Linked DNA regions of Homo sapiens. The protein of the gene in region 3 purifies or fractionates together with the protein of the main gene of each other region. This does not show direct contact. Each region holds a gene or a part of one and is shown on either strand. Other genes may lie near its edges.

What was found.
Region 1: the proteins of POLR2J2 (region 3) and DUSP3 purify together in Homo sapiens (co-immunoprecipitation; one large-scale study listed by IntAct). This does not show direct contact.
Region 2: the proteins of POLR2J2 (region 3) and RPAP1 purify together in Homo sapiens (co-immunoprecipitation; one large-scale study listed by IntAct). This does not show direct contact.

Annotation. Positions count from the first base shown.
Region 1 is NC_000017.11:43,765,568-43,769,065, forward strand, and holds the end of DUSP3 (dual specificity protein phosphatase 3), read right to left. Parts: 3' UTR 558-3,498; downstream 1-557. UniProt on the Homo sapiens protein: Shows activity both for tyrosine-protein phosphate and serine-protein phosphate, but displays a strong preference toward phosphotyrosines. Specifically dephosphorylates and inactivates ERK1 and ERK2.
Region 2 is NC_000015.10:41,527,225-41,530,869, forward strand, and holds part of RPAP1 (RNA polymerase II-associated protein 1), read right to left. Parts: intron 2,756-3,645; coding exon 2,640-2,755; intron 2,345-2,639; coding exon 2,246-2,344; intron 1,113-2,245; coding exon 1,011-1,112; intron 804-1,010; coding exon 636-803; intron 382-635; coding exon 199-381; intron 78-198; coding exon 1-77. UniProt on the Homo sapiens protein: Forms an interface between the RNA polymerase II enzyme and chaperone/scaffolding protein, suggesting that it is required to connect RNA polymerase II to regulators of protein complex formation.
Region 3 is NC_000007.14:102,668,754-102,673,074, forward strand, and holds the start of POLR2J2 (DNA-directed RNA polymerase II subunit RPB11-b1), read right to left. Parts: upstream 2,911-4,321; 5' UTR 2,849-2,910; coding exon 2,799-2,848; intron 252-2,798; coding exon 162-251; intron 1-161. UniProt on the Homo sapiens protein: DNA-dependent RNA polymerase catalyzes the transcription of DNA into RNA using the four ribonucleoside triphosphates as substrates. Component of RNA polymerase II which synthesizes mRNA precursors and many functional non-coding RNAs.

The DNA.
Region 1 (3,498 bases), on a different chromosome or scaffold from region 3:
ACAGGAAGCGAGTCCAATTGCTTCATGTGATAGAGGGAATGGGAACCTCGAGAGGCTTTCTCTGCCCAGACTTCTGTCTGGGAGGAAAAGGCAACTACTTTCTCTAAGGTTTTTTATTCAAAGGAACATAGCACCAATAGTGGAATTTAAGGCATCTGGGGGAAGGGGATATGTTTAGGGACTGTTCATTTGCAGGATCACTCAAATCTCAAAATGTCACCCAGTCATCACGTGAGGCTACCTTGAGATGAACACCCTAGTCCCCTGCTTTCTTAGAAGCACAAACCTTACCTCCTTCATTCAGGACCATTATGGCCATTCTACCTAAGAATATTCCTACCAGAACATTTCTGGTACTGGAAAGGTGTTCATCAATATCTACTGCATAAACAGTGCCATCATGGAACCTATAACTAGCTCAGAACGGCTATGTTTTAGATGATTATTTTTAAAAAGTTAGAAATCGCAAATATAAAAGCTAAGCCCAAACAAAAAAAGCTAAGCATAAAAACGTAAAAGAATACCAACTGTGATAAGAAGGACAAAAAAACAATACCTTTGTAATGTAAGACATTTATTTTGGCTAAAGTTCTGGTGTTTTAACACTGATTTGTGATACAACGGACATTAAACTTCCTTTTAAAAAGAAAAAAACAATTTGGTAGCTCTCCCTTTTCTGTCCAGAAAAATTCACTCTTTCATAATCAAATTACCCTAAAATTTGGTGGCGTTAAGAGGCAACAAAAGTTAAGCTTCCAACGAATCTGTTCTCTCAACCGGAAATGTCTTCTATTTCCAATCAGGATAAAACCTTGACTTACTTGCAAGGACTATCACGGTTAGCCCTTCAGTGATTCCTGACACCAGTTCTGTGAAAAAGAAAATTTCCTGCGAGAAAAGCTCATGTCTTCATATTGAAGATCAGTACTTTTTTTTTTTTTTTTCCTTTAAAACAGTAGCATCTTAACTTGTGGCACAAAAGGCACCAACATTCCCTTTCCAAACCATCCATCACCATGGGTGGAAGGCAGCGCCACCTGCTGCCCATCATATTATGGCTCACATACCCATAATTTCCTTGCGGTGCTGAATTCCAAGTGGGGATTATTAGAGACCCCTCAGAGCCAAAAGGGGACCTTAGAGGTCTTCTAGATGAGTCCCCTCATTTGTAGGTGGTGGTTTCTGGATAACTCAGAGTGGCAGGGACACAGACGAGCCTGTGGAAAGGTATACTGCTTTAAGATTGAGAAGAAAACCATTTGGCGCTCTAATTTTGCCTGGATGGTGCTCTGTCAGTCAAAGAAAGGGAACAGGTCTGGGGAGGGGGTAAGGGCACCCTGAGTTCCTGTTCCATCACTTCCCAGGCAGTAGAAGGCTGTCCAGGAACAGCTCCCATCCGCAGCTGGGCATGTGTTGGCTCTTACACAAGAGACTTTAATTTTACTTGAAGAACTAAGAGCTAAATCTTGTTAAGTAAATACGGGGTTTCAGGGGTGAAGGACTATCAAGAAATCCCAAGTTATCAGCATAAAAGTAGTCCCAAAGTAAAGGCAGTAATTCTCCCAATGGCCTTTTCTCCCTCATGCCCCCACAGAGACTTTCGAGAGGTCCTAGTTAGCCAGCCACACCAACCTGCTGTGTTCGCGTAAGTAGCTGTGCCTGTCCCATGGGGTGACCACTGCCTGGTCATGGGAGGGGAGCCCCAGCCCCAGCTCCCTAGCCTTTTCCAGGAGCAGAGCAGAAAGCTCTACTTCGGGGTGCTACATCCCACCTGGAGAAAGAGCTGCACATTCTAGCCTATGAGGGACCCACCCTTTTCACTTGCTTCTCCGGGGCTGGATTGAGGGTAAGTGCAGTACACCTGGAGATCCCAGGGAGCCCCCTTCTTGAGAAAGAGTATCGTATGAAAGAATCCAGCTTCAGGGAGCAGCAAACCCAAAATCTTGCCCAGCTCCACCTTATGGAGCTGGACAACCCTGGGGGCCAGGCCCTTAATCATTCTGAACCTCAGTTCCTTTTTTTTAAAAAAGGTCACAATACAAGAACAAGCTCTACTAACTTTACAGGGTTACTGTGAGGCTCAAGTTAGATTAAGTTGGAAGGCTACCTAGAAGCTGTGCAGTGAGGTACCCAGTTTAGAGGATGGCCATTTCACTTAGGTGGGTTTATCTGGACACCTTTTTCACTATCTGGAGAAGAAGACACATACTGGTTGTTCAGGGCTGCTGTGGTCACAGAGAAAAGCGGACAGCAAATGACCAGGCTGGGCAGGGCTGCTTCTGTGTGATCAGAGACCTTCCCAGCCGGGAGTGAGGCCTTACGCCACACCTGCCTCTCCGTGTCCCAGCCAGGAGCTCCTGGCCAACTCTGAAAAAGGCACATTCCCTACCTTGGCATATTAACACTGCCTGAATTTAAATGTAAAACTGAGTTGTAAATAGTCAACAAAAGTCCCTGATATTTCTTTCGTTTTAGGTAAGACTCCTTCACAAGGCCTTGCGAGTGATCCTACCATGAATTCAGTCTTCTGGGAGCGTGACACACCCACCAGAACAATGCCCTATATATATTTGGTGCTCAAAAAGTGTTTACTTTCTTAAACTTTTATCAGACACCTATGTGCAAGGTGCTGGGGGCATGGCTGAGGACCTTCTCTTTGCCCAGAGTGACCCTGAAGATAAATAGCATCACAATCACTTTCCATAATAACAATAACGTAAAATCCTAACAAGACTGTATTTAAAACAAAACTCTTATATTCTGGCAAATGTGCATACACATGTGAGGGCTGGTGCATTCCAATATCATCCTTAGAAAGTCTTTTGAAAGGTTTATCGTGTTTGGGTTTTTTTGCTCTACCACCAATAAAGGATCCATTTGGACACTCCGCCATGTCTCATGTCTGCCTGGCTGAGTCACTTCAGGGATCCCGTGCTGGCACCAGAGAGCTGTAAGAGCCACCTGCAATGGGCAGGGTGTGTGCCTGGGACCTTTCACTTCCCTGCTTGTCTTCTGGCCGCGTTTCTGAGAGGCACGCCCCCCACACACATCCATGCACACACGCTGTAATTGGCCAACTTCCTCCTTCTGTTCTTGGAATAGCAACCGAGACAAAAAGCAGTTAGCACGAGTGGCTTGGGCTTGCCAACACTACAATTCAGGACAAAACCCTTGTAATTCTCCAAATGGTGGGGTTTTTAAATAGGTTGGACTTCAACTCCCTGTTTTCTAAAAAAGAAAAAAAAAAAAGCATGCCCAAGGCATCACTCTTCTCAAAAACGAAGTGACTGAGATAAGATCGAAGGGAAATATTCCAGAGCAGCAGATTCTGAACTCAAGGCTTCCAAAGATTCACATTTTGAAAACTCTATGGATTTAGGAGGGTTCTCCAGGTTTGCCCACAAGGCCTCTTTGTGTAGGGACCATTCATCCTAAGGAAATCATTCAAATGCAGCCTTGCTGTGGGAATCTCCATCCACTAATAACTGACGGACACCC
Region 2 (3,645 bases), on a different chromosome or scaffold from region 3:
AGGACCACCGCAGGTCCTGGGTATGTCACCTCCAGCACGTAGCGCAGCCGAGGCAGCAGGCTGGTAGCCAGGAGCCCCTGGGAGTTGGAGAGAGAAACCCACTGACAAATGCAGCTGGACCCTGGGCATTGATGGCCCCTCTTTCCAGCATGTGCTTGTCCCCTGGGCCATGGGATGGGAAAGAAGCTGTCCCTTTACCTTGATGACATCATGTCGGGCCAGGTCAGGTGGAGGCCGGCTTTCTTCTTCAGGGCTTTTCCTTTTTGCTTTTCCTGCTGGGCATTCTTCATCCTCGTCCTCATCCTCCTTGTCCTCCTGGCTGGGCATCAGAGGGAACGTCAAAGCTCCATGGTACCAAGAGAAGGTGCTGTCGAGGAGCTCCTGCCAGAGGAACGGGAGTTGGGGGGCAATGCTGAAGGGGCCAGGAAATGGATCCAGGAGTAGAGAGGATGCTCCCCAATAAAAACCATAAAGGCAAGCCTCCTGGGCTTTAGGGACTTTAGGAGATGAGGGAGACGCCTGCCATCCCATTCTACATCTTGCCCGCAAAGCCTTAGCAATGGGGCCATGCCCAGGAACAGGAATATGGACCCTGGCACCTCCCAGCCCAAGCCCCATTCCTATCCCTGTGGTACCTCATCTCCAGGAGCCACCAGCAGAGCCCGAAGAGCACGGATGGCGGTTGCAATGACCCCATCCACTCTGTCATCCAAGGAGAAGCGCAGTAGGAAGAGGAAACCAGCATCCAAAAGGAGGCTTAAGACACTGCCTGCTAGCCGGTCCCCAAACTCACCAGCCTGGGCCTGAGGGCAGGAGGGTAAAACCTTGCTGAAGATGCTGAAGTTATCTAGAGGCTTTGCCCTAATCCTTCGTTTGCCCCCCTATGATCCTAGGTTGTTAAAAGCACATAGCTGGCTAGTGAGCCAGAGTGAAAAGGGCAGGAGATGGGGAAGTCTGAGGCTGTGGGGTGAAGGGAAGGGTGGGCAGGACCAGGCTGGCAATCCACTCACCCTGCTGATGACCTGGGCTAACACATGCAGTGCCAGTGCTCTCTGCTGGGAAACCTGGCTGCGGGTCAGGTGGAACAGCTCCTGTAGGGAATACCCCGCTCTCTGGGGCAGGGACAAGAAGTCAGAAGCAGCCAGGATACAGCACAGTGCCCCCAAAACACCAAGCAAGGTATCACAGGAAAGACAAAGATAAATAAGTGAAATCTGCCCTGCTTTCCATGGAGCCTCAAGCCGGTAAAGATAAGACTTGCATACAAGTAACCATGCCATGAGGCAGATGCAGAGGAACGTGATAACTGATGTTTAATTTGCGACCGGCGGACAGGAGAGAGAGAGAAGGGAACCTGGAAAATTAAATTGGTCTCAGTGGATGGGTAGAGCTTTGATGGCCTGACATGGAGCAAAAGGCAAAGGCATTTCCTGGAGCGAGTGGAGTCCTGGAGGGCCCTGAGCACAGGAGGTATGTGGGGAGAAGCCAGCAGAGTGGTGTAGCAGGAAGTGAAGGAGGCAGAGCAGCAGGGTCAGCAGGGACAAAAGGTAGAAGGAATATCTTGCCCAGCTGAGACCAGAACCTTATTTTGTGAGCAGAGGGAAGCTGGGAAACTTCTGGAGGCAAGGCATGGCCTGAGCTGGGCCAGAAGAAATCAGCACAGCAGCCCCGAGAGACATGGAATGGCAGGGGGGCGGAGAATGGAGGGCATGGAGAGTGAGCAGACCAAGGAAGCAAGGCCACAGTGCAGGAGGCATCATGAGGAGGTGACAGAAGATCGGCAAATTCTAGCAACTGACCAGAATACGGAGAGAGGATCAAGATTTTGAGCCTAAGAAACTGAATGCCACGCCTGTAATCCCAGCACTTTGGGAGGCCGAGGCAGGCGGATCACAAGCTCAGGAGATCAAGACCATCCTGGCTAACATGGTGAAACCCCGTCTCTACTAAAAATACAAAAATTAGCTGGACGTGGTGGCATGCGCCTGTAATCCCAGCTAGTCAGGAGGCTGAGGCAGGAGAATGGCTTGAACCCAGGAGGTGGAGGCTGCAGTGAGCCAAGATCATACCACTGCACTCCAGCCTGGGCCAGAGCGAGATTCTGTCTCCAAAAAAAGAAACTGAATGCACAGCAAAGGCATGAACTAGAACAGGGCACACAGAAGGTCAAAGGCAGTTGACCAGAGATCCTTTTCCATGGGGTTGTTAAAAGAGCTGCCCCATCCTCTCCAGTCCCATGCCTCACCTCTGCCTCCTCTCCATGGTGGTGCAGACCCAGGTGGGTGGGCAGGTCCACGTCAGGGGCCAGTAGTTCTCCCTGAAGACTGAATCGAGCCTGCATCCTCTAATGGGAAGAGAAAGAGGACTGTGGTCTGGGGGCTCCAGCAACCTTCCCACACCCACTCCCCACCTTTAATCCCAGGCCTTTCAGGACTTAGGTACTGACTCTACTTCTACCAGAAATGGGGCTTATCTGGCCTTGGGGGCCAGGCAGAGTGATGGTAAAGGTGGGTGAGAGCAAAGGAGAGATGCTTCTCAGGCTCTGGGCAATAGAAAGGCCTGAGTTCTGAGGGCAAGAGCAGCAGCTCCTCTCCTGCCCTATCTCACCCACCCCTTGTAGGCCAGGTGGCCCTCCTCACCTCCTGTGTCTGCTGCCGCCGGACAGGGGGCAAGTCCTGGGTCCAGTGGAGCTTCTCCAGCTCGACAGTGTCCATGTGCAGCCATTCTTTCTGAGGGGTCACGGGCAATGCCAGAGCTGGGGAGACAAAGCATGATAGTATTACCCAAACGGCTCAGCTCACTATCCACAGGGGTCCCCACCATCACCCAGCAGCTGCCACATCCACTTCTGTTCCAGGATCTGCCAGCTTCTACCCTCGGTTATGGCTAAATGGCATGGCCCAGGGACTGGAACTCCTGGGGCTGGGGTGAAAGTCTCAAATATGACAGACACACTCCATCCTGGGCTCCAGCCCCTTGCTGACCCCAAGGATTTGTTGGGAGGGGAGAGAGGAGGAGAAGGAGAAGGAAGAAAGAGAAAGAAAGGAGAAAAAGATGAAGAAGGAGGACCACATATGTCAGGAAGGCACCATCTCCACTTTCCAGTACCAGCCCTTAAAGGAGTAGGAGAGTGGGGACAATGAGGAGGAGGCAACTATACTGCTCCTGGGGGGCAGGATACAGAAACAAATCCCACAGCATTTTCCTCCTTCACGCCTACCCCCACCCAACCTGCTCAGCTGGCCTGGAGCTCCTCCGGGGGCATGAGGTTCCTGGCTCTCATAATTCAATTTCTTATTTTGTTAATCACTAATGAAATAATCTAGTTTCTGGGAAATGAGTGCTTCCACTGGCCTCTCTGCTTCTGGTCTGGCATGTTCATAAGATCTTTGTCAGATTCTGCCTCTCTTATTACTCTGGCCCTGCCATCTTTCCCCCAGCACTGTGAGCAGAGAGAGAAAGAACAGTGGGATGGACAGAGCCAGAGCTGGGGCAGCTACAGCAAGGACAGGAAGATAGTCTGCCGGGAGCGGGTGGAGTGGGATTCAGCCATCACGCATTGCTGCCTCTTAAAAGGGAAGGCGGAGAAGGGGCAGTAACAGGACAAGAAAACAGGAAGCATGTGCAGGAAGAAGACATGCATCA
Region 3 (4,321 bases):
TGTCATTTTGATAAAAAGGTACCAAGATTATAAAATGCCCAGAGCAAGCCCCCAGAAGGACTTCCTGTAGCTCAGAGAGACTGAGGAAGACTTGGAACTTGTGCTTTGCCCAGAGGGGCCCATTAAACATAGCCCCTGAGAGCCTGTGACGGGAAACTTACGATTTAATGATGTTTCCCAGTGTGTGGTCTTCTTTGTTGATGGTGAATAAGCAGGCCTTGGGTACCTTGGTGTCCTTGTTAATGGTGATCCTAGGAAGACACAGAGGCCACAGATGAGGAGCAGGGGCTCCCCTCCTCCCACCCTGAGTCTAAACCCTGTCTCCTCCCGGCCAGGTGTGGTGGCTCGTGTCTGTAATCCCAACACTTTGGGAGGCTGAGGTGGATGGATGACCTGAGGTCAGAAGTTCAAGACCAGCCTGCCCAACATGGCAAAACCCTGTCTGTACTAAAAATACAAAGAAAAAAAAAAAATTAGCTGAGTGTGGTGATCCATGCCTGTAGTCCTAGCTACTTGGGAGACTGAGGCAGGAGAATCACCTGAACCTGGGAGGTGGAGTTGCAGTGAGCCGAGATCATGCCACTGCACTCCAGCCTGGGCAACAGAGTGGAACTCTGTATCAAAAATATAAAAATAAAAAGGAAAAATAAGCTCTGCCTCTTCCTGAAGGCCTTTCTCAATCTCTTCATCCCATAAAGGCCTCGCCAACCCGGTCCCCTACTTCCTGCTACCCCAGGTCTATGGAACCTTGGCCTTTTCTGAATTCCTCCTTTTTTTTTTCCGGTAGAGATGGGGTTTTGCCTTGTTGTCCTCGCTGGTCTTGAACTCCTCGCCTCAAATGATCTCTCCTGCTGCCCAGGCTGGAGTGCAGTGGTGTGATCATAGCTCACTGCAGCCTCCAACTCCTCGGCTAAAGTGATCCTCCCGCCTTAGCCTCCTGAGTAGCTGGGACCACAGGCGCACGTCATCATGCCTGGCCTGTTCCTTTCTTCTTACGCCAACATAATGAAGCAACCAAAAGGTGAAGAAGAGAGGCCCTGAAGTTACACGGTGAGGCTGGTCCTGACCCTGTGAGTTCCGAAAGCAACCATCCCCCTGGCTGGAGTGTGCAGTCCTTCCATCCATTCCCCAAAACAAGTCATGCTCTGGCATTTACTATGATTTTAGTGAACGCTTAGATGGACAAAGACAGGAAACTTCCATTGGATTTTCCAAGACAAGGGGTTTTCAGAGTGCAGTTCCCAGATAAGCAGCATCAGAATCCCCTGGGAACTTGTTAAGAGTCTCCCACCTCCCACTTACTGGACCCAGAACTCTGGAGGTGGGGCGCAGGGATCTATGGTTTAAGAAGCCCTTCAGGTGATTCTAATGCACACTCAATTTGAGGGCAACTATGCTGACAGTAAAATCTCACACAGGTGAGAGGTATCAAGTTGAATATCCTTTTTTCTAAGGTGGTTTCTCCAGGCTGACACCACACACATTTTAGGGTGCATCATTCTTTCCTGTGGGGTGCTGTCTTGTGGACATTGTAGGACATCAGCAGCATCCCTGACCTCTACCCAGTAGATTCCAGTCATAACCCCCTTTGACAACCAATAATGTTCTCAGTTATTGCCACATGTCCCTTGTGGGGCCAAATGGTCCCCAGTTGAGAGTCTGCTCTAAAGGAGGCCGAAGTGGCTGGCAAGGGCCAGACCAAGACCTCTGCACGCCAACCTGGGAACAATAAGAGCCAATGGTTATGAGGTTTTCCAGGGGCTGAGCTTTGGACCAAGAGTTTTACACAAATTACCTCATCCAATTCTTTTTATTTTGAGACAGGATTGCGCTCAGTCGCCCAGGCTGGAGTGCAGTGATGCGATCAAAGCTCACTGCAGCCTGGAACTCCTGTGCTCAGCTCAAGCAATCCTCCCACCTGAGCCTCCCAAAGTGCCGGGATTAAAAGCGTGAACCAGCGCACCTGGCCAGATCCCTTTTTTTGTTTTTTGAAACGGAGTTTCGCTCTTGTTGCTCAGGCTGGAGTGCAATGGCGTGATCTCCGCTCACCTCAACCTCCACTTCCCAGGTTCAAGTGATTCTCCTGCCTCAGCCTTCTGAGTAGCTGGGATTACAGGCATCTGCCACCACGCCCGGCTAATTTTGTATTTTTAGTAGAGACAGGGTTTCTCCATGTTGGTCAGGCTGGTCTTGAACTCCCGACCTCAGGTGATCCGCCCGCCTCGGGCTCCCAAAGTGCTGGGATTACAGGTGTCAGCCACCGCACCCGGCCTGAATCCCACGTTTAAGTACAGTAATAAACTCATTTTCCAGATGAGGAAACAGGGCCTCCGACAGATCAAGCCACTCGCCCACAGATACAGAGTGAGCCCAAGCTCTCTCCCCTGGACTCCTTCAACCCGCAGGCAGCGAGGAGCCACTGCGGCTTTTACGCAGGCCGCTGACAGATCGGAGGGGATGAAGGATGGAGGTGGCGGGCGAGAGACAAAAAGAGGAAGCTGCCAGATCCCAGAGGAAAAGGGCTATGGAGAACCAGACACTCTGGGTTCGAATACAAGCGCCGCCACTTCCTGTGTCCGGGGCAACTTGCTCGCCTCCAAGCCTCAGTGTCCTCATCTGCAACATGGACACACTCGCGACTGCCTCGCGGAACGGCCTTAAATTTGGCTGACACAGGCCGAGCAGACGATCAAGCAAAAGCTGTTTCCCTCCCGGGGCAAGAGATGGGCAGGAGACACCCCAGAATGCGACAGCCGCAGGCCCGCGCACCTAGGCCCTCCGCAGCCGGCGTCACTTACTTCTCGCCCTCGAAGAGCAAGAACGACTCGAAGGCTGGAGGGGCGTTCATGCTCCCGCCGCCGTTGCGTCCAGACCCCAAGTGTCCGCCACCGCCGCCACCAGAGCCCTAATAAGAGGCCTCTTCCGGATTACTCCGGCGGGGCAAACCCGCCCAAGGATCGGCTCATCGCCCCCCGTTGGGCTGGAGGATCTTGCGCAGGCGCGAGAAAACCCCGAGAGAGACCAGTGCCTCTGCGCATGCGTCAGTGGCGAGCGCACCGCTCCCCCCCACCCCGCACCCCGCACCCCGGCATGGCTTTCCCCGTGGGCGCTTTTCGGCGCATGCTCAGAGCGCCAGCAGGGCTGTTCTGCCCCTACAGAGGCCTCCTAGTCCTGGCTGAGCGGGAACCTCAAGCTGTACCTTTCTCCTTTCCCCATGTCCCTTGATCTCTCTTTGGAAACGTGCACCCCCTTGGAGTGCGCAGCAGGAGGCCCCTGAATAGAGAGAATAAAGCTAAGGGGTAGTGGACAGCTGCGGCTAGCAGCCGTAGGGGGAGCAGAAGATCTCGTGGCCAGAGGCAGATCTATGACAAGCCCCCTGCCCAGGCTGCCTATACCGACTGCTGCAGGACCTCTGCCTGGGGGGTGCAGCTGGCTTGTTAGCCGGGAGGGACAATTGGGTGAGGGATGCAGAAGGAGGCAGGTGTATACAGCAGTGAGAGGGGAGCCCGTAGGGTTACGTATATCTTTTTATATATTATTATTATTATTTAGAGACAGCGTCTCCCTCTGTCGCCCAGGCTGAAGTACAGTGGCGCCATCATGCAGCCTCCAACTCCTGGGCTCCAGAGATCCTCCTGCCTCAGCCTCCCGATAGTTAGGACTGCAGGCATGTGCCATCACACTTAGCTATTTTTTTTTTTATTTTTGGAGATGGTGGGGGGGGGGTCTCCCTATGTTGCCCAGGCTGGTATTGAACTCCTGGCCTCCAGCAGTCCTCCAGCCTCAGCCTCCCAAAGTGCACTTGGTGGATGTGGGCAGCAAGCCACCCAGGTGCCGAGGCAAGAGACCGAGGGCACGAGCTGTTCCAGTATAATAAAATATATAAAATAAGAATAGTTATACTAGATATAGATCTTAGATATGATTATATATGAATCATTAATCATTAGTTTGTAGTAATTATTCTTTATTCCAGTATTATAATAATCCTCGCTCTACAATCATAACCTAGGAAAAACCAGGCCATACAGAGATGGGAGCTGAGGGGACAGTGAGGAGTGACCAGAAGACAAGAGTGCAAGCTTTCTGTTATGCCCGGACAGGGCCACCAGAGGGCTCCTTGGTCTAGCGGTAACGCCAGCATCTGGGAAGACACCTGTTGCCAAGCCCACCGTGGTCTAGCGGTAGCGTTAGTGTCAAGGAAAAACACCCGCTACTTAGCAGACCGGGAAAGGGAGTCTCCCTTTCCCCGGGGGAGTTTAGAGAAGACTCTACTCCTCCACAGGCCCGCCCACAGTTACCCGGAGGCATAACCGTCTCC